Regions from separate parts of the Homo sapiens genome. Here region 1 is linked to region 2. Evidence: fine-mapped expression QTL. A gene starts in region 2. The other region holds a variant in brackets. All regions are shown on one strand. Distances are from middle to middle.

Region 1 (9,409 bases), 32 kb before region 2:
TCCAATAAATTCCTTTCATGGTTTCAGTTAGTCTGAGTGTGTTTCTATGCATTGCCACCAAGATCACTGTTTCTAAGGATGAAAATAATGGTGATAGTTACCTAACATTTATTAAATGCCATGTAATGTTCTAAGAACTTCATATATGTTGCCAGGCGTGGTGGCTCATGCCTGTAATCCCAGCCCTTTGGGAGGCCGAGGCAGGCGGATCACCTGAGGTCGGCAGTTTGAGACCAGCCTGATCCACATGGAGAAACCCCGTCTCTACTAAAAATACAAAATTAGCTGGCTATGGCGGCACATGGCACATGCCTGTAATCCCAGCTACTTGGGAGGCTGAGGCAGGAAAACCACTTGAACCCGGGAAGTGGAGGTTTCAGTGAGCCAAGATCACGCCATTGCATGCCAGCCTGGGCAACAAGAGTGAAACTACGTCTCAAAAAAAAAAAAAAAAAAGAACTTCGTATATGTTATCTATTCCAATCCTTACAACTCTTTGAGATGGGTACAATTCTTATTCCTATTTTACAAACAAGAAAATTGAGGTACAGAAAGTCACATGTGAATAAGGGGCAGAATGTTTCTGAATCTAGACAGCCTCTGTGCCCTTCACTGCTGCACTATACCCTCAAAACACTGGGGATGGGCTTGAGGTTATTTAAAATGTATGAAATTCCTTCAAACACTTTTACTTAGCCAGGTGTGGTGGCATGCACCTGTGATTCCAGCTACTCAAGAGGCTGAGATAGGAGGATCTCTTGAGCCCAGGAGTTAGAGCTACAGTGAAATATAATTGTGCCACTGCACTCCAGTCTGGGCAGGCAACAGAGCAACATCCTCTTAAAAAAAAAAAAAAAAGTCTTACTGATCCTGAGCAAAACCCTCAAACAGAAGACAGACGTCTGGAGCTGCTTTCAAGATAGCACAGCACACTTCACTTGAGGAAGTAGCAACAGCTTTATTAATTTCGCTTTTTTATTAATTTCTTGTTGAGACAGAGTGTCGCTCTGTTCCCCAGGCTGGAGTACAATGGTGTGATCTTGGCTCACTGCAACCTCCCGTTCTGTGGGGGTTCAAGTAATTCCTGTGCCTCAGCCACCCAAGTAGCTGGGATTATAGGTATGTACCACCACACCTGGCTAATTTTTGTACTTTTAGTAGAGATGGGGTTTCACCATGTTGGCCAGGCTGGTCTTGAACTCCCGGCCTCAAGTGATCTGCCTGCCTTGGCCTCCCAAAATGTTGGGATTCTAGGTGTGAGCCACCAGGCCCAGCTCTAATTTAGTATTTTTTAAAAACTGTGGTAAAATACAGAAAAATATAAAATTTACCATCTCAGTCATTTTTAAATATACAGTTCAGCGGCATTACGTATCTTTATAATGTTGTGCAATTATCACCACCATTGACCCCTGTAACTACATCTTGCAAAACTGAAACTCTATACCCTAAACAGTAACTTCCCATTTCTGCCTCCCCAAGTCTGACAACCACCATCTTATTTTCTGCCTGTATAATTTTGATTATTTTAAGTAATTCAAATAAGTAGAATCTTACAGTATCTATCCTTTTAACTTTATTTTATTCATTTTTTTTTTTTTAGACACAGGATCTTGCTCTGTTGCCCAGGTTAGAGTGCAGTAGTGCATTCATAGCTCACTGCAGCCTTAACGCCTCAGCTCAAGTGATCCTCCTACCTTAGTCTCCCAAGTAGCTGGGACTACAGGCATATGTCACCTCACCTGGCTAATTTTTAAATTTTTTGTAGAGACAGGATCTCACTATGTTGCCCAGGCTGGTCTCCAAACTCCTGGCCTTTGACAAGCCTACCACCTTTGCCTCACAAAGCATTAGGACGTATTTGTCCTTTTGTGACTGACATTTCATTTAGCATGAAGTCCTAGAGGTTCATCCATGTTGTAGATATACCAGAATCGACTTAGTATTTTGACCACTCACTTTGTTAAAAACACTCACTTGACCATGAGCCAAGAAGCTCCTTTTAACCATTCTTAATGTCTTAGAAACAGATGCTCTGACAACACTCAGTAGATCAGAGTTAAGCTTGGACTCTGGATCGGCACAGATCTGAGTTTAAATCTTGGTTTTGCCTCGTACTATAACCTCGGAAGTTTTAGTTAACTTTTCAGAACCTCGGTTTCCATATCTGTAACAGAAAAAAAAAATACTGCTTCTCTCATAGTGTTATAAAAAAAATTTACTGAGATGATGGACTAAGGCATTTACGAGCATTATCTGACACCTGGGAGAGGGTGAGGCTCATATAAGCGCACAATAAATTACAAGTATTATTATTGTCCCCTTCTGTGGTCAACCACCTGTTGTTTCTGCCATTACATCATCTTCTGGAGAAAGCTCCCTAGTTTTCCTTGAGAACAACTTTTCCTCCATTGCATATAATCCCTGTGAAACTACCTATTACTGGCCAAGGAATGGTAGCAGGACCTCAGATAGCCCAACAGATACTTGCTCCTCAGAATCTGAACCTTGAGCAGAGTCATCCAAAACTGAGGGGAAAACACGGAGAAATTAACAACAACAAAACGGCTGTAGTTCATGTGTCGCCATCAAAGAACTCAGACAAGATTGGCCATTAGCTCCTGTAGCTAGTTCCTGTCTTTTCCAAAACCTGTTTTTTTTTTGGCTTTTTGGTAGATGCTGTGGCTCTCTTATGGCCTCCAATAAACATAAGTGAGGCAGAGTTGGTTTCTATTGTTTGCAACCAACGAACTTAATGGATTCTGTATTAGAAAGAACTGGTATATTTCTTTAAGCAAAGACTAGGACTCTATGGGGCTCAACAAACTCTGTAATCGCCTTTCCACTCCCCTGGACAAAATAAATATATTGTCTACTGCTGAAACGCAAATTATCCCCAAACCAAGTAGCTTTAAACAATAAACGTTTACTATCTCACAGTTCATGTGTGTCTGACGTTCCGGAGCAGCTTCTCTGAGTGGTTCTGGCTTAGGGTCTCCCATAGAGGTCACAAGCGAGATCAGCTAGGATTGCGGTCATGTGAATGCTTGGCTGGAATTGAAGGACCAGCTTTCAAGATTGCACACTCCCATGGCTATTGGTGGGAGGCCTCGATCCCTTGTCATGTGGAGCACTCCATAAGGCTGCTTGAGTATTTTCATGACCTGGAAGCTGGCTTCCCCCAAAGTAAGCGATCAAAGAAAACAAGACAGAAGCCACGATGTATTT[T/C]ATGACTTACCCTCAGAAGTCAAACTCTCATTTCTTCAATAGTGTAGTGGTTACACAAGTCAGGCCTATTCAATGTGGGAAGGAACCACACAAGGGTGTGAATAGAAGAAGGCAGGGATGGTTGGGGGCCAACTTAGAGGCTGGCTGCCATGCAGGGGAAGCCTAGAAGCCTGGTAGGGGTTCATGTACCCTGCCACCATCCTCCTTTCACTTGCTATTCCTCTTCACTGAAGACCCCAAGAAGCATATCTCATTTCAGAAACCAGCAGAGATGATGACTTATAAGTCATGGAGGAAGGACGAGGTGGATTTGAAGAGAAAGCCACAAAATAGGAAGGGTGAAGGTCTCCAGTCCAAGGACCAGGTCTGGAAGACTGGAAAAACGGAACAGATGACGTTTAGGGAAGGGAGACACAGGCTGCCCCAAGGTTCAAGAATAAAGGGTAGCATAAGACAAGAGTGCTTACCCTTGGCAGTGGAGTCACACTTCTCCTTTTACAACCCCAAAGAAAGTCTGGTGTCCAGTTCAGCCCTGCTTGTGTCACGTATCCTTTGCTGCTCTGAGTCCTTGGGGCCTGAGAACTGGGACCCATGAGTCCTGCTGCCCAGCTGCTACGGGCTGAATTCTGTCCCCCTAAATTCTTACGTTGAGAAACCCCTGGAACCTCAGAATGAGACTGTACTTGGAGATTGAGCATTTAAAGAGGTGATTAACTTAAATGAGGCTGGTTAAAGTTAAAATCCAGTCCAACTGGTGTTCTTAGAAGAGGAACGTTGGGCACATAATGAAACTTAGAGATGTGTGTGCATGGAGGGAAGACCGCACAAGGACACAGTGAGAAGACAGCTGTCTGCAAGCCAACAAAAGAGGCCTCTAGGAAAAACCAGGCCTGCTGACACCTTGATCTTGAACTTCTAGCCTCCAAATGTGAGAAAATAAATCTCTGTTGTTTAAACCACCTGGTTCTGTGGCATTTTGTTATGGGGGCCCTAGCAAACTGAAACCCAAGCCTTCTGCACTGTTCCGGGATGTTAACTTTTCTGTGAACTAACTCCAAACCTCTGCTGTGTAATGTGTGAGAAACCAGACCCGGAGAATGCCTTTCCAGAGTCCAGGAGGTTAGATGGGTTGGGCTTCCCCAGCCAATTGACAAAAACGTGCCTGTGGTGGATCACAAATGCACTTGTGTGCAGTCAGAGATTGTTTCCACTCTTAGTTCCTTCAGCAAACTTCCCGACGGGCCCCAGGCCTCCTTCTGGTCTCTGAAAGCTGTTTCTAAGCTCACAGGTTCTTAGGGCGATCTCCACTGCCCGAAACATCCTCTCCCTAGCTGGAAACCACCTTCTGGATCCGTTCCCGTACTTCCTTTGGTCCCAAGGCCAACATCATCTCAGCTACAGGAGGTCCTTGCTAAGAACAAAAAGAGCAAATATTGCCTTACTACCTTAAACAGCCTAAAGAACTGAAGCTCAGCCTTAGTCTGCAGAAATTATTCCCAGGCCAGCCCCCACACTGCTGCCTGTGTTCTGAGGATCAGTGCTTGTGTTATTTCCCTGGAAAAGGATGGGTCCTAAGAGCCTGTTTCTCCTCCAACCACCGCCCTTTTTTTTTTTTTTTTTTGAGATAGAGTCTCACTCTATCACCCAGGCTGGAATACAACGGTGCGATCTTGGCTCACTGCAACCTCTGCCTCCCAGGTTCAGGCAATTCTCGTGCCTCACCCTCCCAAGTAGCTGGGATTACAGGCGCACCACCACCCCCAGCTAATTTTTGTATTTTTAGTAGAGACAAGGTTTCACCATGTTGCCCAGGCTGGTCTCAAACTCCTGACCTCAGGTGATCCACCTGCCTAGGCCTCCCAAAGTGCTGGGAATACAGGTGTGAGCCACCGTGCCTGGCCTGATTTTCCCATATTAAGTAAGCTGTTGCTAGGTCTGTTATCCCCAATAAACTGCAAACCCCATGGAGGCAGAGATTATGTATGTGTGTTTAATTCTATATTGTATTCACTGTACCTAACACAATGCTTGCACATAGTAGGTACTCAATAGTGTCTGTTGATTGACTAAATGAGGGGAGTGATCATGTTTCATTCACCTTTGTATACTCAATATTGAGCTCAGTGCCTGCCAGGAAATGTAAGTTCAAAGGATCAATGAGGGGCTCCAGGGAACAATCCAACCCGTGTCCCTGCCTCACCTGCTGTCCACTGAGGGCCATCCGAAGGAGTTTCATCACATTACTGTACTTGGTGCCTTCCAGACCTTCTGATAGCTTCTTCAGTTCTCCATTCAGCATATCCTGAGTTAAGCTCATACTAGATCTTTCTAGAAGCCTAGAAGAAGAGGGCCAGTTTACAGGGCCTGCATGGGCCAATGGCAAGTGGGTGGGAGGAAGGGCTTCAGAAGGTTATTGATCAGCTACAGTACGAGCAGCACAACCAATGTTCAAGCCTGTTTTGAGGGAGGTGAGGAAGATATTGACCACTTTCTCCCTTATCCAGGTCGGGAAGGAAAAACCACCAAGGGACCACACACAGAGAAGCCAGTGGTCACAATGCAGGGAGGTAAGAGGTGCCATAAGAGGCTTTACTCATTGCTACCTCTGTGTCATGCAATCTTTATGCCTCAGTTTTCTCATTTGTAAAGTGGGGAGAATAATAGTATCTGAGGCTGGCGCAGTGGCTCACACCTGTAATCCCAGCACTTTGGGAGGCCAAGGCAGGCAGATCACTTGAGGTCAGGTGTTCGAGACCAACCTGGCCAACATGGTAAAACCCCATCTCTACTAAAAATACAAAAATATTAGCCAGGGATGGTGGCGGGTGCCTGTAGTCCCAGCTACTCAGGAGGCTGAGGCAGAAGAATTGCTTGAACCTGGGAGGAGGAGGTTGCAGTGAGCCGAGATTGCACCATTGCACTCCAGCCTGGGTGACAGAGCGAGACTTTGTTTCAAAATAAAAAAAAAAAAATAATAGTATCTGTCCTGCACAAGGCTATCGTAGAGAGTTAAAACTTATAAAGCACCAAGTGCCTGAACACATGATAAATACTCAGAAATATTACCTTTTTTTTTTTTTTTTTTTGGAGATGGAGTCTCGCTCTGTTGCCCAGGCTGGAGTGCAATGGCACGATCTCAGCTCACTGCAACCTCCACGTTCCAGGTTCAAGCGATTCTCCTGCCTTAGCCTCCTGAGTAGCTGGGATTACAGGCACGTGCCACCACGCCCAGCTAATTTTGTATTTTTAGTAGAGACAGGGTTTTACCATGTTGATCAGGCCGGTCTCAAACACCTGACCTCAGGTGATCCACTCACCTTGGCCTCCCAAAGTGCTGGGATTATAGGCAGGATTATAGGCGTGAGCCACCATGCCCGGCCAAGTATTACATTTCGTATTTGAATTTAAAATTTTTAAAAATTAGTTAAGTACAATCAAGAGCTTTGAGACATTACAAAAGGATCTAAAAAGAAACAGTTCTGCTTGCAGGCACAACAAAAAAGAAACTTAGGAATAGATTTGACATAGAATGGATAATTTCTGGGAAATTATCTGAAATACAGCTTTAAGATTGGTAGAGAGAGACTTCTTTGGAGACGTAGCCAAGAAGAGAAGAAATCAGAAGACCCCACCCAGCTCCAGCAATGGCTCTGCCACCAACTTGCTATGGCCATTCTTCCACAAATTGAAGCCTCTAGGATTCCAGCGGGCCAGCAACCAACCCCCACATCCTGGCAGTCCAGCTGAGCAAGATGCTCTGCCCAAAAGCTTTTGTTTCAGGAGAAATTCTCCATTCAGTTAGAGGTGGACTTAACAAAAATTTGCCTCGGCCCTGATTGAGTTAGTCAAGAGATGGGAATAGGCTGGGGATGAGTATATTTCACTGCAACTTTCCAGTTCCTCTCAGTTTTTAAAAATAATTAATTATTTTTTTTTTAAGACAGGATCTTGCTCTGTCACCTAGGCTGGAATGCAGTGGTGCAATCACAGCTCACTGCAGCCTCAAACTCCTGGGCTCAAACGATCCTCCCACCTCAGCTGCCTGAGCAGCTTGGACCACAGGCACCCACCACGATGCCTGGCTAATTTTATTTTTACCTTTTGTAGAGATGGGGTCAAGCTATGTTGCCCAGGCTGGTCTCAAACTCCTGGCTTCAAGTGATCCTCCCCATTCACCCTCCCAGAATACTGGGATTACAGGTACAAGCCACAGTGTCCAGCCTCCCTTCAGTTATTACTGGAGATTCCAACATGGAAACACTGAAGAGGAACTGGGGCTGGACATCTTTCTGGTGCAGATGGTCTGTGATGTCAGTTCTGACCCTGCCTGCTCAAACATGGTCCAGGCAACTGCATTCCAAAGTCAACTCAGTATGGACCACTACTGTCTCAGGGAACTGGGTTCATAAGTGATTTGAAGAAGCAGCCTTTCAGTGCAGACAGATCTCCTTACTAACTGTCAGCACTGAAGCAGATGAGTTTCAATTTCAGACAAGAGTGATCGTTCTTTTTTTTTTTTTTTTTTTTTGAGACAGAGTCTTGCTCTGTCGCCCAGGCTGGAGTCCAGTGGTGCAACCTCAGCTCACTGCAAGCTCCGCCTCCCGGATTCACGCCATTCTCCTGCCTCAGCCTTCCGAGTAGCTGGGACTACAGGCGCCCACCACCACACCCGGCTAAATTTTTGTATTTTTAGTAGAGACGGGGTTTCACCGTGTTAGCCAGGATGGTCTTGATCTCCTGACCTCGTGATCGGCCCGCCTGGGCCTCACAAAGTGCTGGGATTACAGGCGTGAGTCACCGCGCCCAGCAAAGGATGATCGTTCTTACTGCATCATCTCTATGTTCGGAATGTTTGTGTTCCCCTAAATTCATATGTTGAAATTTTAACCCCCAAGGGGACAGTATTCACAGGTGTGGGCTTTGGGAGGTGAACAGGTCATGCAGGCCGAGCCCTTATGCACAGATGAGTGCCTTTATAAAAGACACCCCAGAGAGTCCCTCGTCCCTCCACCACGTGAGGATGCAGCGAAGGGCTGGAAAAGGGAAGGGCCCAGGAACAAGGCTCTCACCAGACACTGAATCGGCGGCACCTTGACCCTGGAGTTCTAGCCTCTAGATCTGTGAGAAATAAATGTCTGTTGTTGAAGCCACCAGTCTATGTTATTTTGCTATAGCAACCCCATGGACTGAGACAATTATTAACTGGGTCACATGAGTACTGCTATTTACAAAAATCAGGAGATGAAATACTGAAGACAAAAAATATAATGTGGGAAAAAAGCAGACACTCTCCCCAATGGCACTGCAGGGAAGCAGGCTGCCGAGGAGCTGATGAAACAATGACAGGCCCCAGGCCGGGAACAATGGCAGTTCCAGACCTGCTAGAGCTGGCCCAGAGTTAAGAACCATGGCATAGGCACAGAAAGGATTTCTAGTGATCTGGCAGCTCCTGAACATTTGGGTATCAGCTTTCCTGACTCGAGAGGGAGTCCCAGAGCAAATCTAAAACCCAACCTCATGGTGGAGACAGGCAGTTACGACACTGAATCCTGGTGAATTAGAACTAATAGGCCCTGGCCAGGCACTATGGCTCACGCCTGTAATCCCAGCACTCTGTGAGGCTGAGGTGTGAAGATTGCTTGAGCCTAGGAGTTTGAGACCAGCCTGGGCAACATGGCAAGACCTTGTCTCTACAAAAAATAAAAAAATTAGTTGGGCGTGGTGGCTTGTGCCTGTAGTCCCAGTTTCTAAAGAGGCTGAGGTGGGAGGATGAGCCCTGAGCTGCTTCCTGCAGATTGCTACATAATGGAGAAATGTACTTCCACAAAGGACATGCGCTGTCATTTCTTTTGTCTGGTAGAGAGTCTTGCCCTCTAGTTACCTGATACACAGCCTCTGCAGGAAAAGTGGTCAGCATCGGCGAGTAGGGGCAGAAGGGGAAAGGCAGAGAGCGAAAGCGAATCTTGGTAATGGAGTACCGACTCCTGCATTAAGCTGTGCCTCAAGCAGCCCTTCTTCTAGCATCTACAGTTACATAAGCAATTATTCCCCTCTTGCCTAAGCCAGCTTTGGTTGCGTTTGTAATTGAAAGTTATTACTGTTACAGTAAGAATTAGCATCATCTCTCTCTCACTGAGAAGGAAAAGGAAGCTCAAATAGGTACAGTAACTTGGCCAAAGTG
Region 2 (15,840 bases):
GGTTGCAGGACAAGAACCCAAAACTCGCCAAGCTGCGGGTGACGGGAATAAAAGAGCTGTAACACGCTCCCGCTCACCAGACTACAGGAGAAAGAGAGCTGTAACACGCTCCCACTCACCAAGCTACAGGAGTGAAGAGCTGAGACAGTGCTGGGGACTCAGATCTCAGGACTCCCCAAACAAGAGCTATAACACCCCTTGGAGCTCCACAACTGATGGTATTTCCCAAGTTTTTGGGTGCCACCATGTTCCCCTCATCTAGATGCCAGCACCCAACACAGAAGCCACTCGTGGCACACCCAGTCCAGCCATGGGCTGAGTGTGGAGCCATGGCAGGTGTGGGATCCAAGTGGGCATGAGCCAAGTGCAGCCTGCTGGGCCAAATGGGCCCAGAAGGCCCAAGCGAGGCCCCGACAGAGGTGAGGGCAGCTGCAGAGATTTCTGGCTGGCAAAGTGGCACTGAAGGAATTCTGTAACATGATCACAGCTCACTGCAGCCTCAACCTCAACTTCCCCAGGCTCAGGTGATGCTCCCACCTCAGCCTCCCAAGTAGCTGGGACTATAAGAGTGCACCACTACACCTGGGTAATTTTTTGTAGAGATGAGGTCTCACTATGTGGCCCAGGTTGGTCTTGGACTCCTGGGTCCAAGTGATCCTCTCTTCTTGGCCTCCCAAAGTGCTGGGATTCCAGGCGTGTACCCCTGTGCCCGACCTGGCAAGCCTTCTATCCTCACATCCCTGGTCATTCTGCTCACTATGGTTAGACCAAGCTGGTCTTTTTGATGCTCCTCAAATACATCTAGAACACTCCTGCTGTGGGGCCTCTGCATTGGCTATTCTTTTTGCTTTGAACATTCTTCCCCCAGGTCACCACGGGGCTGGCTCCTCACTTCATGCAGGTCTCTGCTCCAGCATCACCTCCTAAGAGAAAACTGCCCTATCTACAAGGGCATCCCTCGCCCTAGTTTCTAAGCCTGTTACTCTTTTCTCCATACTGGTTATTATCATTTAGTATCCTATGAAGAATGAATTAGGAGCCAGGAGCGATGGTTCATGACCGTGATGCCAGCACTTTGGGAGGCCGAGGCAGGAGAATTAACTTGAGGTCAGGGGTTCAACAGCAGCCTGGGCAACATAGCAAGACCCTACCTCTACAAAAACATAAGTTAATAAAATTAGCTGGGCATGGTGGCACACAGCTATGGTGCCAGCTACCCAGGAGGCTAAGGTGAGAGGATCCCTTGAGCTCAGGAATTTGAGATTACAGTGAGCTGTGTTTGAACCACTGCGCTCTAGCCTGGGCAACAGAGCAAGATTTTGTTTGTTAAAAAAAAAAAAAAAGAAATAATTAATCCACTCATCTGTCTTTTCCCTTGGCACTAAGCACATGGTCTTTTTTTTTTTTTTTTTTTTGAGACAGAGTCTCACTCTGTCACCCAGGCTGGAGTGCAGTGATGCAATCTCGGCTCACTGCAAGCTCCGCCTTCCGGGTTCACGCCATTCTCCTGCCTCAGCCTCCTGAGTAGCTGAGACTACAGGCACCCGCCACCACGCCTGGCTAATTTTTTGTATTTTTAGTAGAGATGGGGTTTCACTATGTTAGCCAGGATGGTCTCGATCTCCTGACCTCGTGATGCACCAGCCTCGGCCTCCCAAAGTTTTGGGATTACAGGCGTGAGCCACCACGCCCGGCCAACCATTTTATACTCTTTAGGAATCCAGAGTTTAGTGAGTAATTTACCTGAGATTAGAACACACATCTCAAAATAGTCTTGGGGTTTTTCTTTCTTTTTTTTTCAATCTCTAGACTAGCAGAGTCTTGGTATTTTTCCTTGGGAATCTCCCCTTTCCTAGTCACACCCGTCCATACAGGTAGACAACTGTCGACCCATGAAAAGGAAACACACTCCTCTTTGTTCTCCCTGACCTTAGCTGTCCTCAGGATAAAACTTCCCACAAGATCAACTTCAGAAGCTGTACGTGTTTTGTGTGGCTTATACAACATGGTTAAAAAAAATCTGAGCCCAGATTTAATAATGGTTAAGTATTCATCCAGAAAAACTGGATTTCTGGCTCCTCTTGCAACTCAGAGGATTGGACAAGCTGGGCCAGCATTCCCGCATGGGCACAAGGAGCTGGAGCTCAGAGGCACTCCCAACTCTGGATGAGGTGTGGTTTTCACAGCTCAGCACTGGCCCAGCTCCTCCAGTTCCCACTTGGCCCTGTGTTTCCTGCCTGGCCCCTGTAGGGAATGAACTTGAGATTCTGAGGTGAAAACAGGAATCTCAAAACAGCCTTGGCAGTGGCTCACACCTGTAATCCCAGCTCTTTGGGAGGCTGTAGCAGGAGGATTGCTTGAGCCCAGGAGTTTGAGAATAGCTTGGGCAACACAGTGAGATCTCATCTCTACAAAAAAATTAAAAATTAGCCAGGCGTGGTGGTGCGTGCCTGTAGTCCCAACTACTTGGGAGGCTAAGGTGGAGGATCACTTGAGCCCAGGTCGAGGCTACAGTAAGTTATGATTGTGCCATGGAACTCTAGCCTGGGTAACAAAATGAGACCCTGACTCTAAAAAATTAAAAAATAAAGAAACCAAGTTGGGCGCGGTGGCTCATGCCTATAATCCCAGCACTTTGGGAGGTCGAGGCAGGTGGATCACGAGGTCAGGAGGTCAAGATCATCCTTGCTAACACAGTGAAACCCCGTCTCTACTAAAAATACAAAAAAACTTAGCCGGGCGTGGTGGCGGGCGCCTGTAGTTCCAGCTACTTGGAGGCTGAGGCAGAAGAATGGCGTGAACCCGGAAGGCGGAGCTTGCAGTGAGCCGAGATCGCACCACTGCACTCCAGCCTGGGCAACAGAGCAAGACTCTGTCTCAAAAACAATAAATAAATAAAAATAAAGAAACCAGTCTTGGAGCTGTGTTTCAGAGAGCTTCGGCATTTTTTCAGGTGTCATCTGCCACCCCGGGCAGGGCAGTACAAATGTAGCCACTTCTCCAGGAACTCCCCATTTTCCACTCAGAACTCCATGAGAAGACCCACAGGCTCCTTTTCCTGCTTCCTGTTCCTTCCCTGCAGAAAGATCCTTTCTCTGCCAGGCTTACCTGCCCACTCCAGCATGTCCTCAATATTCTCCGCTGCCCCAGGCACAACGCGAGTCTGATCTGTGTCCTCTAGCCTCAGGATGAAGCTCCCCTGGTACTTCTTAGCAAAGATGTAGTTGTACAAGGCAGTGCGGAGGCCACCCAGGTGCAAGAAGCCTGGAGAAGAGAACAGCTCAGATAAGACAGGGAAGATAAGCTAATAGGCCTCAGCAAGGGGCAAGTAAGCACTACTGTGACAGAATGTTGCAATAAATTTAAAAGACCAGCAGGACACATTGGCTCACGCCTGTAATCCTACCACTTTGGGAGGCCAAGGCCGGGGGGATCACTTGAGCCCAGGAGGTTCCTGTAGGTTTTTTAAGACAAGAGTCTCACTCTGTCACCCAAGCTGGAGTGCAGTGGCACAGTCTTGGCTCACTGCAACCTCTGCCTCTTGTGTTTAAGCAATTCTCATGCCCAGCCTCCCGAGTAGCTGGGATTACAGGTGTGTGCCACCACGTCCAGCTACATGTTTGTATTTTTGGTAGAGACAGGCATTCGCCATGTTGGCAAGGCTGGTCTTGAACTCCTGGCCTCAAGTGATCCCCCCAGCCTCGGCCTCCCAAGTGCTGGGATCACAGGCAAGAGCCATCACACCTGGCCAATTTTTGTATTTTTAGTAAAGATAGGATTTTGCCATGGTGGTCAGGCTGATCTCGAACTCCTGACCTCAAGTGATCCATCTGCCTTGGCTTCCCAAAGTGCTGGGATTACAAGCGTGAGCCATTGTGCTTGGCCTGAGTTTGAGATCTGCCTGGGCAACATGGTGAGACCTTGTCTTAGCAAAAAATATAAAAATTTAGCTGGGCATGGTGGTACATGCCTGTGGTTTCAGTTACTGAGGTGGGAGGATCACCTGAGCCTGGGGACGCTGAGGCTGCAGCGAGCCATGATCACGCCTCTGCACTCCAGCCTGGGCAGCAGTAGAGTGAGACTCTGTCTCAAACAAAAAAAATTAAAAATTAAAAAATTTTTTTTCAAAGACTAAGAACTAGTTACCCCTGTGCCCTGTCTCCAGACACATTTAATCCCTCATCCTGAAAATGGAAACCACCCAGGATTTGGAGCATGTCATTTTATTAAAAGGCTCCAATTTTCCCCAACTGCATCCACCACTCTATTTTGATATTTGTCTCAAGGCCAAGTTTCGCCTGAAAGAGAAGCAGAGAGTTATTCATTGAGGCCATATCATGTACATTTAACTTACAGAAATTCAATGATGTGCGCTGGGAAAAAAATTAATTACAAACAAACTAGAAATTTAAAATACTGTACAATCATATTGTGGGCCAGGTGCAGTAGCTCACACCTCTAATCCCAGCACTTTTGGAGGCAGAGGCACGAGGATCACCTGGGTCTCTAAATTTGAGACCAGCCTGGGCAACATTGTGAGATCCTGTCTCTACAAAGAAAAAAAAAATCGGTGGGGCATGGTGGCTCACACCTTTAATCCCAGCACTTTGGGAGGCCGAGGCGGGTGGATCACAAAGTCAGGAGTTTGAGGCCAGCCTGGCCAACATGTTGAAACCCCGTCTCTACTAAAAATACCACAAAAAAAATTAGCTGGGCATGGTGGTGGGCGCCTGTAATCCCAGCTACTTGGGAGGTTGAGGCAGGAGAACTGCTTGAACCCAGGAGACAGAGGTTGCAGTGAGCCGAGATCGCACCATTGCACTCCAGCCTGGGCGACAGGGCGAGACTCCATCTCCAAAAAAAAAAAAAAAATCACATTTTGCATATGCAGTCTATGCAGTGTGCATGACTGTCCACGTCGTACATTTTAAATTTCATCTACTTGAGATTTTTACTTTTTTAAAGAAACAAAATTCATTTTTGAAATTTGAGATGGGGTCTCACTCTTGCCCAGGCTGAAGTCCAGTGGTACAGTCACGGCTCACTGCAGCCTCAACCACCCAGGCTCAATCAATCCTCCCACGTCAGCCTCCCAAGTAGCTGGAACTACAAGTGTACACCACCATGCCCGGCTAATATTTGTTTTTTGGTTTTTTTTTTGCAGAGGCAAGGTCTCACTATGTTGCCCAGGCTGGTCTCAAACTCCTGGGCTCAAGCAATCCTTACACTTCAGCCTCCCAAAGTGCTGGGATTACTGGCATGAGCCACCATGCCTTGCCAAGATTTTCACCCTAATTGCTGGCTTTAAACACTAACCAAAAGTAGTGTTTGATTCCACTGTATTTCTCTTCATCAGTTTAAACTCCTAAGATTTGCCTTTTTCATCATTCCTGTCTGAAAACTGAAAGTTAACAGCTTTTCCAGAGTTGTCATTACCTCTTACCGTACCTTCTTCGGACCAGCCCACAGCCCTAAGTCTCCACAATGAGCTCATCTACATTTACAAGTACAAGAGGCAGCAGAGGAGAGAAAAAGCTCTTCTGGGGCCAGGCCGACCCTGCTTCAACACTGATGTGTGTAACCTTCGGATAGTTACTGCAAGGACACCAGAAAACCAGTGGTATTCAGTGGCACTGAGTCCCACGAGTCCCCAAGACAAAAGAGGAACCCAGCTGCTGAAAACAAAGCCTCTTACATCAAGTACACCTGGATTCAAATTCTGCATCCACCATTTATTAGTTGCTACCCCTTGAGAAGGAACTCTACTTAACTTTTATGAGCTTCTATTTCCTCATCTGTCAGAGGGATTAAGAGCAAAAAAATAAGAACCTTCTTTATTATAGGGTTGCTCTGAGGTCTAAATGCTGACCAAAGTAAACCCTCAATTAATTTCAGCTACTGTAATGATCTGTGCCTGATAATTCTTTTATCTGTTTATAGTCAAAAGCCTTTCCCACATGGGCTTTCCCCGCAAATGAGCAAGGAAATGAGAAGTACAATCATCATAATAGAGGCTGTGTATTAAGTGCTTTCTGGGTGTACTAGACCTTACTAAGTGGTTCGGCTGCATGAGCTTAACCCCATAAGACAGATATTATTATTAGCCCCGTTTTGACAAATGGTGAAACTGAGGCTCAGATTCATTAAATAATTTGCACATCTAGGCCAGGTGTGATGGCTCACACCTATAATCCCAGCACTTTCGGAGGCCAAGGCAGGTGGATCACTTGAGCTCAGGAGTTCAAGATCCGCCCAGGCAACATGGCAAAACCCCATCTCTACAAGAAAATACAAAAATTAGCTGGGCGTAGTGGTCACACACTTGTAGTCCCAGCTACTCGGGAGGTTGAGGTGGGAGGATCACTTGAGCCCCGGAGGCTGAGGTTGCAGTGAGCCGAGATTGCACCACTGCACTCCAGCCTGGACGACAGACAGAGCCAAACCCTGTCTCAAAATAACAATAATAATTTGCACATCTAGTAAGTTACACATCTAATAAGTGGCCACGACAGAAATTTGGACCCAGGCAATCCCAGGCTTTGGCATTCTACATAAGTGCTCTTCAAAGCAAAGTGTGCAATCCAGTGCTGGTCTGAAAACAGTTGTCAGTTCACAATCAAGTACAGAAACTGAGAGTAAAGGTTTAGAAACTTTTGTTGTTGTTTTGAGATGGAGTCTCACTCTGTCACCCGGGCTGCAGTGCGGTGGCACGATCTCGGCTCACTGCAACCTCTTTCTCCTGGGTTCAAACGATTTTCAGCCTCCTGAGTAGCTGGGATTACAGGCCTGGGCCACATGCCCGGCTAATTTTTGTATTTTAGTAGAGACAAGGTTTTGCCATATTGGCCAGGCGAAACTTACATAGCAATCTGGCAGAATGATTTTACCTCTGCTAACCCAAATAAAATGAGATTGGTTTGTATTTTGGATGTTTTCAAAATTTTATTTTTCTGGTCATTATATTAATTTTGTGCAAATATTGATACACAATTGATTGGAAATTTAAAACCAGCACTTCCACAACAGATGGTTTGAAAGGCACTGCTCTAGGCTATACTGCCTGCCAGAAAGATCCTGTCATGTATAGCTGGGATTTTACTACAAAGATCTTTGTATGTTCATCCTGGGATTTGGGATGAGAGGCATACTCCGTGTAGAGAACGTAGAAGGTAGCCTTACTGGTGGGAACCAAAAGGCCCTGACGAGATCTCCAACAGGCTATACAATGGGCCTCTGTCACCCTCTAGCTTGCTAAGCTCCCAACAGCACTAGCACAGTGCCTTGGTACCTGCGATTTCCTCTACCCAGAAGGTTCCTTCTTTTTTGTTTTTGAGACACAGTTTCGCTCTTGTTGCCCAGGCTGGAGTGCAATGGCGCGATCTTGGCTCACCGCAATCTCCACCTCCTGCGTTCAAGCGATTCTCCTGCCTCAGCCTCCCAAGTAGCTGGGATTACAGGCATGCGCCACCATGCCCAGATAATTTTGTATTTTTAGTAGAGACAGGGCTTCACCATGTTGGTCAGACGGCTCTCAAGTGATCCACTTGACCTCAAGTGATGCACCCACCTCTGCCTCCCAAAGTGCTGGGATTACAAGCGTGAGCCACCGCGCCTGGCCTCCAGAAGGTTCCTTCTATAGGCTTCACATAGCGTGCTCCTTCTTGTCATTTGGATCTCAGCTCAAATGTTACCTGCTCAGTAAAGCCTTCTGGAGCGTCCTTCTTAATCCCCAGTCTCCTATCCTGTTTCACTTCCCGCATGGCACATGTGACTCTAAAATTACACTTATTTTTTATAAGTGTCTGCGGCAGCCACTAGAATGCAGACTTCCACAGAGCAAGGCCCCTACCTTTCTCAATGATCACTGTATCCCAGCGTCTACAACACCTGTTACACAGGTTGTCATCAATGCACATGTATGGAATGCATGAAAAAAAGATCGAAAGAGATGGGATGGCACAAAAAACACAAGAAACTCCTGGCAATTTGAATTATTTCCGCTCCTGCACCTCAGTTTCCGCCTCTGTAAAATGGGCTCGCGCTGCCTTAACCCTCCTCCGCCCGCCCACTCTGACACCACCGGAAAGGATTCATTCGGGAACATTCGTGGGGCGGAGACGGGACAGGGGGCCTCGGCCTGTAGCGTCACGTCCGCCAGGGTTACCTGTGGGGCTGGGAGCGAACCGCACTCGCACCGCAACCCCGGCATCAGTGCCCAGGTTGGCCTCGCGCCGTCCTACGGGGCGGCCAGAGGCCGCCGAAGGCCTCTCGCGCTGCAGCAGTCTCCTCAGGAGCGCCGCCATGTGGGATGGAATAGCACACGTGGGCTTCTCCCTGCGTCACTTCCGGGGACTGCTTCCAGCCAATCGGCCTCCGCCACAGCCAGCGCAGCCTTGCCCCTTAAAGTCACAGGCCCCCTAGCGCGAAATCCCACGCCCCCCTGGACGGCTGCGGCCGCACTCGCCACCAGGGGGCAGAGGCCAGAGAAAGGGCTATTTCCCGGACCCGCCCCCTTCAGCTTGGGAAAGCGAAAGCGTGGCAGGGGCCGGACCTGGGAGCGGAGGAGGCGGGTCTCCATAGAAACCTCCACCTGTTTCCGGCCGGGCTGTGAGAGATTAGGGGCTGCTGCGGGGGCCAATCTCAGCCAGCTCGCCTCTTCCCAGCGGCCTCTGCGGGAGCGGTGGGTGTTGTACACAATCATCATGGCGGCGGCCGGGGCCCCGGATGGTGAGTGCGGCGGGGGTGGCGGGCGCCGGGCCGGGGCTGAGGTTGCGGTCGCTCCTCTGGGGGATGCGGCCCGGCCCGGGAGGGAGAACCGCGGCTCGGGAACGGAGGTCCGGCGGCGCCCGGACAGCGTCCGTTCCCAAGCCCAGCCCGCGGCGAGCGCCCACCCCCTAACCCCCTTGCAGGCATGGAGGAACCTGGCATGGACACGGAGGCCGAGACTGTGGCTACTGAGGCTCCCGCGCGGCCCGTCAACTGCCTGGAGGCTGAAGCCGCGGCGGGGGCGGCGGCCGAGGACTCCGGCGCCGCACGAGGCAGCCTGCAGCCGGCCCCGGCCCAGCCCCCTGGGGACCCCGCAGCCCAGGCCTCGGTCAGCAACGGCGAAGACGCGGGCGGCGGCGCGGGCAGGGAGCTGGTGGACTTGAAGATCATCTGGAATAAGACCAAGCATGACGTGAAGTTCCCCCTGGACAGCACAGGCTCCGAGCTGAAACAGAAGATCCACTCGATTACAGGTAATTCCTGTGGCGCTGACAGCCAGTCTTCCCCACCCCGCCTCCTGATGGCCCTTGCACCCTACTAGGCACCTGGTGGCTTTCCTTGCATCAGGTCCCCCCATCCTTACAGCAGTCTTCTGAAGGATACTTGGATGCCCATTACTCAGCTGGGGAAAGAGACTCAAGTTTATAGAGCTAGTAAGTTGCAGAGCTGGGATTAAAGCCGAAGTCTGACGTTTAGGCCCCAGTTTCTCATTGATGTTGCTCTAACATCTCTAATTAAAAAATCACCTAAGGCGCTTGTTTTACAGCTTCTGGGCCCTTTCCCAGGAGATTCTGATTCAGTGGGTCTGGGATGTAGCCAGGAATTTATTTTTAGCAAATATCTTAGGTAATTCTTCTAAGTGAAGTTTAGGAAACGCTGCTATTGACTTTGATGCTGGTTCTTCACAGTCGATTCTGTTTCTTAATTTTACCTTGTTCATAGCTCTTTGCCATCTGAGATTTCTTTTCTTTTTCCTATTTTTTTTTTTTTTTGAGACGGAGTCTTGCTCTGTTGCCCAGGCTGGAGTGTACTGGCACCATCTTGGCTCACTGCAGCCTCCGCCTCCCAGGTTCAAGCGATTCTCCTGCCTCAGCCTCCCGAGTAGCTGGGATTACAGGTGCCCGCTACCCCGCCGGGCTAGTTTTTTTTATTTTATCCACCCACCTCGGCCTCCCGAAGTGCTGGGATTACAGGCATAAGCCATCACTCCTGGCCTTGAACTTTTTTTTTTTTTTAAAGCTTTCTACATGTAGCCTTGTAATCTCCATTAAGAACAGGAGTTTTGTCCCTATTGGCTTCTGTAGCTCTGATGCCTGTGGATTCTCACTTAATATGTGAATGATTTAGATGACTGAGGAACAACTTGGAAAGAATGAGAGCTAGTACTTACTGAACAATTATTCAATGCTAGCCACCGTACTAAATGCCCCGCATTGGTCTCTTAATCCTTGAAACAGGTCTGTACAGAAGGACTTACTCTAATAAATCTTCTACAGTTCTAGAAACTGAGGTTCAGAGGTTGTAAATCTCCCAAGTTCACAAAGCTAATAGGTGGTGGAGGCAGTATTCACTTTTTGGTCTGTTACCAAAGAGCTGTGTAGTATCCATACATTTTTCTGTCCTTCCTTCCTTTCACTGTCCACCTTCTACCTTTTCCCAAGGTCTCCCGCCTGCCATGCAGAAAGTCATGTATAAGGGACTCGTCCCCGAGGATAAAACATTGAGAGAAATAAAAGTGACCAGTGGGGCCAAGATCATGGTGGTTGGCTCCACCATCAATGATGTTTTAGCAGTAAACACACCCAAAGATGCTGCGCAGCAGGATGCAAAGGCCGAAGAGAACAAGAAGGAGCCTCTCTGCAGGCAGAAAGTGAGTCCATCTTGTGCTTCTTGGTCTTGAGAAATTTGAGGCTTTGTCCTCTTGAGCCGTGGCTGGTTATATTCTCCCTAGAATAAGCTCCTTTTTGGACAGGGCCCATGATGGAAATTTATGGCAGCAGTTGGGTGCCGCAGAGTGGAGGTGACAACTACCTGAGATTTGCAACTTTGTCTCATCTGGCGGGTCAGTGTGTCTCAAGTCTACCTACTTTAGGATAAGACCTTGGTAAAGGGAGGCTTCAGACCATGTGTTGAAAGGAATCAGACGTGGGTTTCTCTCTCTTATTTAGTGCCAGAGAAAACTACCAGTACTAGAAGTAAGCCCTCATTTTGTACAAGTGCTTACATTTGGCTTTTTGGTTTGTGGCTTTCCCCAAGTCAACAAGCCTGGCTAGGCATGGAAATCAACAACTCTCGGAGGTTCCCCTAAAGCTGACCGTTTCAGGAAGCTAAATGAAGCTGAGTAGGAAGACAACTACACTGATGGATTTGTTTATTTATTTTTTTGTCCTGATCTGTGAAATAGGAGCTTGGTTTTTTACGTTCTCTGTTCTTTTGGCTGCAAGAGATCCTGCCTTGTCTTGTGCTCATCATAGCCATTAACATTCTTTCACGTAACGAGGAAAAGTGAGATTATTTTACTATGGAAGGAACAGGTTGTAAGAATCATTACTTGTTATCTTTTTACCTGGCAAATTATACTGATTGCTGTGTAGCCTCCTGATCGTTCTTCCTAGTGTTCCAAGGAAGACAGGTATTCTCAACTGTGTCTGAAGTAGAGTAGATAAACTTCAATCAACATCATTTAGTGACCATAGACACTAAGATATATGACCAACAGTAAGAAAAGGACACAGTTTGTGTTACAGATCCATAATCCCCCATGTGTGCTTCCAAAACCCCAAAGGAGTATAAAAACGAGAAGTGTTTTTATAAATTTAACAGCAAAACCTGACCAGAATTAGTGTGAATTTTCCTCTTTGGTGACAAGGTACTGCCCCAGACCCCACAGAGAAGATTGTTATGTATTTGAAAGCAATATTATCTTTATAAAAATTCCAAAACCCTGAAAGTTCAAAACTCTAGGGTTTCAGATAAGGGGTTATAAACCTATATTAATTATCTAAAAGGTGTTGATTTGGAGACTTCACCCCCACATATGGGGTCTCAGTGTCTTGAAACCGATTGAGTTTCTTCTCATATTCCTGTTTTTCTTTGCCACATGTATGAAATAGTGAAATGTGAGCACGTCAGATAGGAGTGGTCGCAATGGTCACACCCTTGGAGCATAACATGCCTCCTAAATACAGGTTTTTAGTTACTAATGGTAGCTTAACAGGCTTAGAACTGTTCTCCACAGTACAGGAAATCTTGTTCAAAAGGTACTTGAAAGGTGTGACTCGAATTGTACTTCCAGCCCATGCTGCTGTGTTTCATTGAGGCCAATTATGATGCATCACATGACCTAATGAGAGGGATATAGTCCCTTGCCTTTTTACCAGCTTATTAAGGGGTCTGGGGGTGATGTCTGGAGTGACTTTTTGCTAGCAGTCTGGCAGTGCTGAGTTTATTCCTCCCAGAGGGATTCCACCATGCCAGTGAGGATTTGGGCTGGCTTGTGGCTGCCTAGTGCTTACATTTGATTAAATTGTTACCTTCTATCCATTCATTGTCCCCTAGTTCCAGCCTTCCAAGCAGTGGCTATGCCTATAAGGCCACAGATGGAGAAGAAAGAAGACTCAGGCATTTGGGCCAGGCAGGAGAACTGTTTAAGGGGCCCTGAACTTAGAATCCTTGAAGAGCTGCCTCAGAGTTCTTGGGGCAGGTGGTAGGGGTGGAGTTTAGAGGCTTCTTAATGTCAGGTTATAGAGTAATAAGCATTTCTTTCTGAAAGGTGGCTCTTCCAGGTTCCTGTTTAGCTGGAGTTAAGGGTAGGGCAGTGGGGAAAACTTCGGCGATGGGCTGGGTCTCCATTTGTTGAAGAACTGCTCCTCCTAGGCAGTTAGACGGATTACCAGCATCTTATAGTGTTCTCTGGAAGTTTAAGTTGAAAAAGGTGGGTGCCATTTTTTGTCTGCTAGGAGAGCAACACCCTTTGTCGCCCTCTTTAGTTTGATGGTTTAATCATTTCAGTGGTGATTTTTTTTTTTTTTTTTGAGGGGAGGAGGGCAATCTGGAAATCCCGTTTGCTGTAGAACTTTGATATCTAATATGGTAGCTATCCACATGTGGCTGGTTAAAATGAAATTAAGAATTCAGTTCCTCAGTCATAGTAGCTGCATTTCAAGTGTGTAATAGTCACAGCAGTAGGTAGTGGCTAGCACAGGTACGAACATATTCGCCCTCCCAGAAAGTTCTGCTGGACAGCACTGTGCTATAGTTTCAAAGGATCCATAGTCTGTCGTCATTAAAAGCTTTTGAGCCAAAACACTAAGGCTTTCTTCATCCTCTCTTTCAAGGGAATAGTAACACGACGAAATGTAGTCAGCTGTTTCATTTCATTCTCTCTTCTGACTTATAGCAACACAGGAAAGTGTTGGATAAAGGAAAACCTGAAGATGTGATGCCATCTGTTAAGGGGGCCCAGGTAAGGCGGATTTCTTTGTGAGCATTCTGAAAATGAGGCAGCCCCACCGTCTGACTTGAGGTTCCTCCAATCCTGTCCCTTCTCTTTTTTCCCTGTTTTTTTTTTTTTGAGACAGAGTCTTGCTCTGTCACCCAGGCTGGGGTGTGCCACCACACCTGGCTAATTTTTGTATTTTTAGTAGAGACGGGGTTTTACCATGTTGCCCAGGCTAGTCTCCAACTCCTGACCTCAGGTGATCTGACCGCTTTGGCCTCCCAGTGTGCTGGGATTACAGGCGTGAGCCACCGCGCTTGGCCCCCTTCTCTTTTTTTCTGACTGTCCCTCCATCTCTTACCATTCTCTCGTGCCTTCAGGAGCGCCTGCCAACGGTACCGCTGTCCGGCATGTACAATAAATCTGGAGGAAAAGTGAGACTCACCTTTAAACTAGAACAAGACCAGCTGTGGATTGGCACTAAAGGTATGTTCTTCCTCGCCTCCTTGCTGGCCCACTGCCTGCCTCTGGCACCCAGCAGCACTCACATTTTAGAGTGCGATTTCACCCCTCCTTCTGAAACCTCTCTCTCCACTGTGCTTTGCTTGCTTCTGGCTTTTAAATTTGCTTTTAGATGCTCGCCTTTTGTTTGGACCGTTTTCCCTCATTGTTTTCAGTCTGATCTTAGGGCTGATCCACCAAACAGTGGCTCTTCAGTTGCACACAGATTTGGGGGTCCCAAACACGTGGCCCAAGGGCCAAATCTGGTCCACAGAAAAATGTTTTGTGGGATGACACACAATCTGTAAAAATTGGGAGATTTCACTAATCTGATTTTTTTTTTTTTTTTGGCTTCTCTTGAAAACTCAAATGATCTGGCCCTTTGGGGCCTGCATTCTCACATGGCATCGATCCACTAGAGCCGAGTGGTGGTTTCCAGTGGGCCATACTACAGTCTTCATGGTCCCATTTATCTTAGAAGTAGCCAGCTTTGTTCATTTGTCACCTGCCTGGCCCCTGTAGGTCAGAGTTTGACCCTATAGTAGGTGAAGTTTTCCTAACCGCTGCCGAGGAATCTGCCTCTCCCTCCCCGCCTGGTTGCCCTCTGCCTGCCCCACCCCCGCCTGTGCACGGTGTCTGGATCAGCCTTGCTGTTTGCTGGGAAGTGTCTCTGACTGTCCTCCCTCTCCCTTCCCCCAGATGGTTACAAAGTCTTGTTAGTTACACTGCAGAACTGTCTGTCCCTTTCTTTGCCACACTGTTGTGCCAGTTAAAGTTCCCAAGCATCTTTAAACTTGGTCTGTTCAAAGCGAGTTACCCTGTTTCACTGCCCCATCTGTGTTTTCTTCTGTCCTGTCCATCTTACCTACTGCTTTTTATCCTGGGTACCCGTGCTCAAGGACCTTTGGCTGTTTAAGGACACATTCAAATGCCTAACCATAGCGTTCAGTGTTCTCAACACTGGGCCTTAGTTTAAATTTTGGTTCCAGCTTCTGGCCCGTTTGCCCTGTGGTCCCCTGTGTATTTTAGCCGCATCTCTCTGTGAAGCTCCCAGTGTGCTTTGCACAGCTCCTTGTCTTTGCTCATGCTGTGCCCTTACCTGGAATGCCTTTTTCCCATTCCTTGTTATTAATAAAATCTTCCAAGGCCCTACTTAAATGTCCTCTCTGAATGAAGCCTTCCTTGATTCTCCCCCCACCCTCCAAATGACTTGCTGCCGCTTCTGTTCATAGAGCGCTTCGTTTATATCCCCAGAGCACTCATTACTCTCTGACTTGTCTGTCCCCCTGTTAGATTCCTGGAGGGAACCGAACATGCCTAAATCACCTGTTTCTGACCAGCACTGTAGGTATTCAGTGTTCGAGGTAAATGCTAAAGAGAAGTATAGGGGGTCCCATCATCTGACGTTCACTGGTTTCAGGGACAGACCATTTAGTGAGACTCCACTTAAAATGGGACCAAGTTTTATGGAGAATAATTGGGGCAGGGGTGGTGGGAAGAGAGAGTTTTTAATCATCTAAAACACAAAAATCAGTGTTCAACCCTATACTGATTGTTAAAATGAACAAAAATTGAAATGCCAAAAATGCTTGAGTTTTCTATCAATTTTATGATAACTTGCTATTTTCTTCATTTCACATTCAACTCTAACTGCATGGTCAAAGCAAGTTTTGCAGAATATCTGAGGGTTCCCCCCAGTTTTTGCAAGGGCCTTTGAACCCTCTGCTAGATCATTCTCTTCTGTAGAGCCTGTCCATCTTCCCTTTATCAGTAGTAAGCTGCCCAGCCTCTGTCAACTTTGCAGGTGATTTTGCTTAGTTCTGTCTCATCACATTCACTTGCTGAAGTGCATAGACTTCCTGCCTCTTGCTGGACCTCTACTTTTGCTTGTGGGCAGCCTCATTGAAGGCAGTTGCTACGGCTGACCTGGAAAGACCCTGCCATGAAGATAGGTGCAGGCAGAGAAGTCTGGATGGGAACTAAGTCTGTAAGTGCTCATTGGTTCCTTGGGGAATATTTCTGTGTCAGGAAGTTGTATAGGGAACACATCATAACTGCAGGAACTGACAGAACAAGAACTTCCTGACCCTGTATTGGAAGTTTTCTTTTTGCTAGTAGGAGCAGCCGCCTTCCTG

The links.
Region 1: its variant is fine-mapped to the expression of EARS2 in whole blood (TOPMed, PIP above 0.99).

Annotation. Positions count from the first base shown.
Region 1 is chr16:23,519,816-23,529,224 of GRCh38, forward strand. It overlaps EARS2 (glutamyl-tRNA synthetase 2, mitochondrial), which reads right to left. Exons shown (of 9, transcript NM_001083614.2): 8 at 5,429-5,564; 9 at 939-4,639. The coding sequence ends at 4,556. It also overlaps a transcript of GGA2 not described here. Among named protein-coding and RNA genes, the nearest start is that of GGA2, 14 kb to the left of the region's middle. The variant T/C (reference allele first, on the strand shown) is at 3,229.
Region 2 is chr16:23,549,041-23,564,880 of GRCh38, forward strand. It overlaps EARS2 (glutamyl-tRNA synthetase 2, mitochondrial), which reads right to left and starts at 8,310. Exons shown (of 9, transcript NM_001083614.2): 1 at 8,165-8,310; 2 at 3,109-3,264. The coding sequence starts at 8,303. It overlaps UBFD1 (ubiquitin family domain containing 1), which reads left to right and starts at 8,687. Exons shown (of 7, transcript NM_019116.3): 1 at 8,687-8,727; 2 at 8,910-9,239; 3 at 10,428-10,636; 4 at 13,166-13,231; 5 at 13,585-13,690. The coding sequence starts at 8,703. RefSeq lists enhancers at 6,995-7,639, 8,000-8,279, 8,284-8,928, 8,470-8,669, 8,929-9,572 and silencers at 8,740-8,829, 8,930-9,109.